Homo sapiens: one gene and its partner. The protein of the gene in region 1 interacts with the protein of each later gene in a biochemical or structural test. Each region holds a gene or a part of one and is shown on either strand. Other genes may lie near its edges.

Region 1 (2,188 bases):
ACACGGCAGAGAGGCAGGGCACTCTTCCTGAACCCCAACTCAGTATTTTCTTCAAGGCTACTACTACAGGAACACTATTAAGAAGATCTAAATGATGATAAACTAGGGAAGTACTAACATAGATGTGGCTTGGCCTTGTTCCTGACTCAGATAATCTGACTTCTGTCAATGTTATAGGAATTCTACCTGCTCAGTTTCTTAATAGTTAAGGTTAGATCAAACACGTTCCAGAGGTCAGAACTCAGCACTCTAAACCATTGACGCAGGGTTTGGAGATGTGATCTGTCGAACCACCTAACCTTCTGAATCATATTCCAAACCCAATCATACTCCACACCCAAAAGATTACGGGGAGAAATATAAAAGTTAATGCATGAAAAGTGTCTTCTTAAATCACCAACACTCATCTTCCCAAGACAAAACTTTATTTGAAGCATCAAGCAATATACTGAAAGAAGTGTCATGCTCAAGTAATGTTCTTATTTCCATAATTGTACATCTGATACTCTCTGCTCTCTTAAAAAAGACTGCATAGTGAGCAAAGATGAGTAGCACATATGCTTTTATACATAACCCTATCTATATGGTGCTTAAGAAAGTCTCCTTTTAATTTCATTCTTCCTTCCTTAAAAAGCATGTTGGTTTTATCTGGGAAAACTAAAACAAACTAGTTCTTCCACTTAGGATGCAGTTTCTCCCAAGTTATTTATGAAATAACACAGCTGCCTTTTTCTTTAAAGGGGTTCTTGTCTTCTGGAATTCCCTTTACTAGAGGATCCTCTCCAGAACGTTCTTCAATATAGTTCTTTATTTCTTCAGAACATTTAGACACCTTAAGTATAGAAAAAAAAGAGAATACATTAGGTTAGGGTTGTTTAAACTTTGTCCCTACGCCTTAATGAAATAAGTATAATTGAATACAATAAGTTTTTAAACATTTTTTTACATTTACATATATATGTGCATGTGTGTGTGTATATATTATATATATAATACATATATAAAATCTGGGCTCTGCACTCTAATATTTTTATTCTATTACTATACCTATGATGCAACCTATGTAAAATATATTTCTTACTGTTGGTCGTTGGTCAAATTAAAAAATGTTTGAAAGTCACTGCATTAAATAAATCATCTCCAGCAGTTTTTTTCCATTGTGTCTCATATGATTTCCTTCCTCTGCTAAAATACAATTATGCCATGTCTACAATATTTTAGGAACTGAAATATACTCTTATTTTAATTTTCCATGCTAGTGAGCAGGTGCAGTAGTAGATAATCCCCAAATGTTTTGGGGTGTGTAATGCCACGATTCTCACTTATGGGTGTGTGCCATGTTCTGAAATTTCACGAAATGATAGAAGCTTTGGAAAAAGCCTGATTCTGGAAAGATTGGAATTGTCCAAATATCGCACTCTGTGTTGCTCCTCAGAATTTCTTCCTGCTGCATGAGGGCAATGATCATAATAAAAGACTTATCTGAGACTTATTAGGCTTATCTGAGAATAAATTTTTTTCTGAGATGGAGAAAAAATTGAATAGTGTCTTCAAAAAGTCTATTCTTAAAAGAAGAGTTTCTTCAAAAAGTCTATCTATCCTTAAAAGACAGGTTGCAAGAATGAATTAAAAAAAGAATAAAAACAAAAGAAAAGAAATTAGGGTTTTAATGAAGGCCTGTATTGCTAGTAAGAAATTTAAAGTAAAAATTACAGAAGTACCAGCAAATTTAATTTAATTTAATTATTTATTTCTTTTTGAGATGGAGTCTTGCTCTATTGCCCAGGCTGGAGTGCAGTGGCAGGATCTCGGCTCACTGCAAGCTCCGCCTCCCGGATTCTAGCCATTCTCCTGCCTCAGCCTCCCAAGTAGCTGGGACTACAGGCGCCCACCACCACGCCTGGCTAATTTTTTGTATTTTTAGTAGAGACGGGGTTTCACCACGTTAGCCAGCATGGTCTTGATCTCCTGACCTCGTGATCCGCCCGCCTTGGCCTCCCAAAGTGCTGGGATTACAGGCGTGGGACACCGCGCCAGGCCGCACCAGCAAATTTAAATGGAGACCTATGAAAACTGGGCAAATGTTCCCATTGAATTAGTAATCTAAATTAGTAACCTCAAACTGTTTTAACGGTTACTACTAAAACATGTTTGCATGTGTATCCCAAAATGAATATAATTTTTAACT
Region 2 (3,500 bases), on another chromosome or scaffold:
CTCGATGCAAAACATGAGAAAGCCTCAGAGACTCCTCAAACCCAACACACACAAACTAAACTCATCATGACCCACAGCCACCCAGAGGGCAGACGGAAACCTGTGGTCATTTACATCTTTCTCGCCACTCTCGCCTTCCCTTCGGTCACCAGGTCTTATCAATCGTCAACCTGGTCCAGACCCCTTTCCTCTTCTACAGCAGCTTTGCCAACTGACTAGAGTCCCCTCCCTCCCCTGAGCACTCTACGCTCAACTACCAAGTAATGATCCCCATCAGATCAATCTCCTTAAAACTCTTTCAGGGCTTCCTGGAGCTCTCGAGGTAAAAGTTCATTTTTTTCTTTTTTTTTGAGTCTCACACTGTCACCCAGGCTAGGGTGATCTTGGGTCACTGCAACCTCCGCCTCCCAGATTCAAGTGATCCTTGTGCCTCAGCCTAATGAGTAGCTGAGAATACAGGTGTGCGCCACCAAGCCTAATTTTTATATGTTTAGTAGAGACAAGGTTTCACCATGTTGGCCAGGCTGGTCTCAAACTCCTGACCTCAAGTGATCCGCCCGCCCTGGCCTCCCAAAGTGGTGGGATTACAGGCATAAGCCACTGTGCCCGGCCTCAAGGTAAAAGCTCTTTATCCAGACTGTAAACCTTTTGGCTTCCAGGTCTAACCACTCTCCTAGCCCTTTGGAACTTCCGTCCCTGGATGTGCTGTGCTCTTATGCGCTTGATAAATAATTACTGAGCACCTGGCACACAGTATTGTGCGGGGTGCTGGAGACAGTGAAGGAGACCAGTTGGTTGCCGGATGAAAAACACACCATCTCATCAGCCTAGGATACACTCCTCCCCTCCATCCCCACCTGCCTGCCAGACAGACTCCAATTCAGGTCTCAAAGCTTTTTTTAATGAGAAGCTGCCACTGAACTCTGGACAGGGTGGTGTCCCTGGGAGCCACAGCCACTGCCCTCCGCTCTGTGCCTGCGTGTCAGGCTCCCTATTAGACCATGAATTCAGCAAGGCCCTGGATCACATGCATTCTACTATGGCTCACAGCCTCAGCACCCAGTAAGGTGCTAAATTGGGGCCAGGCACAGTGGCTCACGCCTGTAATCCTAACACTTTGGGAGGCCAAGGAGTTCAAGAGCGGCATGGGCAACAAGGTGAAACACCATCTCTACTAAGATACAAAAAACATTAGCTAGGCGTGGCGGCATGCACCTGTAATCCCAACTATTTGGGAGGCTGAGGCAGGAGAAGCGCCTGAACCTGGGAGGCGGAGGTTGCAGTGAGCCGAAATCGTGCCACTGCACTCCAGCTGGGTGACAGAGCAAGACTCCAACTCAAAAAAAAAAAAAAAAAAAAAAAAGAGAGAAGGTGCTAAGTCAACATCTGTTAAACAAATCACCATTACAGTTTTTATAAAAACAAGTGGAAAATATTTAATTATTGTCCCTATCAGCAAATCAAGGGACGTCAACAAATTTTGGTGAAATTAAAAAAAAATCTAGCTTCATAAATGGGAGGAGGAGAATTCTCTAAAAAAATGAACATAAATGGGCAGGGCGTGGTGGCTCACGCCTGTAATCCCAGCACTTTGGGAGGCCGAGGCAGGCAGATCACGAGGTCAGGAGTTTGAGACCAGACTGGCCAATATGGTGAAACCCTGTCTCTACTAAAAATACAAAAATCAGCTGGGCATGGTGGCAGGTGCCTGTAACCCCAGCTACTCTGGAGGCTGAGGCAGGAGAATTGTTTGAACCCAGGAGGTGGAGGTTGCAGTGAGCCGAGATCATGTCACTGCACTCCAGCCTGGGTGACAGGGCAAGACTCCGTCTCAAAAAAAAAAAAAGGACATAAACTTACCAGTTTTCAAAATGAGGCATAGTTCAAGATTATTCTACAAAGGTAAAGGAAAGCCTTTAAGAGCAGGTTACTGTGGCTCACATCTATAATCCCAACATTTTGGGAGGCTAAGGCAGGAGGATCACTTGAACCCAGGAGTTGGAGACCAGCCTGTCTCTACAAACAATAAAAAAAATTAGCTGGGCACGGTGGCATGTGCCCGTGGTCCTAGCTACTTGTGAGACTGAGAGAAGAAGATCGTATGAGCCCAGGAGGTCCAGGCTGCAGTGAACCATGATCATACCATCACATTCCACACTCCAGCCTGGGTGACACAGCAAAACCCTGTCCCAAAAAAAAAAAAAAAAGAAAAAGAAAAAAAAACCTTTCAAGAAAAGATAAGGATGTGAGAGATTTAGTAGAAAGTAAGGCAGTAAATAAGTGATAGGGATTTGCAAAGATAGCTAATATGCATGTTCCACACCCTGAATTAATATTCTTCTGGAACCATGGAGAAAAAAAGAAAAATCTCAGTAAACTGTCATCTTATAACATTTGTTAACCTTGCCATAAAAGAAATTTTTACAAAGCAAGGCCATCAGCAACAGAAATAGCTAATCCTTGCACTGAGCTCTGTTATCAGTGCCCACATCAGGACTCATTTAATCCTCACAATGACCCCATGAAGGAGGCTCTAGGAGCCTGTTTCACAGATAAGGACAGACACAGAAGTCCTAACACTGCAGGTGGCCTAAATTAAGGCAGGCTCAGGGAGGACAGAAAGCTCCTGTGGAGTGGAAGGGTAGAAGTTGAACTGATCTTGATTTTCAGTGCGAATAAAAGTCCTAACACTGCAAATCAGCCAGTGAGGCAACAGAGCTGAGCTGGGCTCTAACTCAGACAGTGCCAATCCTTTTGAAAACTACTGAATTTCTCTCACTCCCTAGATTTTAGGAATTATTTTAAAATTCCTATGAGAAATTTTCTGAAACCTATTGTAGACTCTTTTGACATGCTCATCTAATTATAAAGTGTCCGGACTTTTTTTTTTTTTTTTTGACCGAGTTTCACTCTTGTTGCCCAGGCTGCAGTACAATGGCACAATCTCGGCTCACCGCAACCTCCGCCTCCCAGGTTCAAGCGATTCTCTTGCCTCTGCCTCCCGAGTAGCTGAGATTACAGGCATGTGCCACCATGCCCGACTAATTTTTTTTTTTTTTTTGAGATGGAGTTTCCTTCTTGTTGCCCAGGCTGGAGTGCAATGGCACGATCTCGGCTCACTGCAACCTCAGCCTCCCGAGTAGCTGGAATTACAGGCATGCATCACCATGCCTGGGTAATTTTTTGTATTTTTAGTAGAGATGGGGTTTCTCCATGTTGGCCAGGCTGATCCACCCTCCTCGGCCTCCCAAAGTGCTGGAATTACAGGCGTGAGCCACCGCGTCTGGGCTAATTTTGTATTTTCAGTAGAGACAGGGTTTCTCCATGTTGGTCAGGCTGGTCTTGAACTCCCAACCTCAGGTGATCCGCTCACCTTGGCCTCCCAAAGTGTTGGGTTTACAGGCATGAGCCACCACACCCAGCCCAGAATTTTTTAAGCTTTATTAACTACAACACTCGGCAGAAGTTGAGTGTCTGTAATCAACATAGGGAATATATTT

The links.
Region 2: the proteins of GNG11 (region 1) and GNB1 form a complex in vitro, tested with the Homo sapiens proteins (3 studies listed by BioGRID).

What each region holds. Positions count from the first base shown.
Region 1 is NC_000007.14:93,924,735-93,926,922, reverse strand, and holds part of GNG11 (guanine nucleotide-binding protein G(I)/G(S)/G(O) subunit gamma-11 precursor), read right to left. Parts: intron 833-2,188; coding exon 707-832; 3' UTR 1-706. UniProt on the Homo sapiens protein: Guanine nucleotide-binding proteins (G proteins) are involved as a modulator or transducer in various transmembrane signaling systems.
Region 2 is NC_000001.11:1,881,088-1,884,587, forward strand, and holds part of GNB1 (guanine nucleotide-binding protein G(I)/G(S)/G(T) subunit beta-1), read right to left. Parts: intron 1-3,500. UniProt on the Homo sapiens protein: Guanine nucleotide-binding proteins (G proteins) are involved as a modulator or transducer in various transmembrane signaling systems.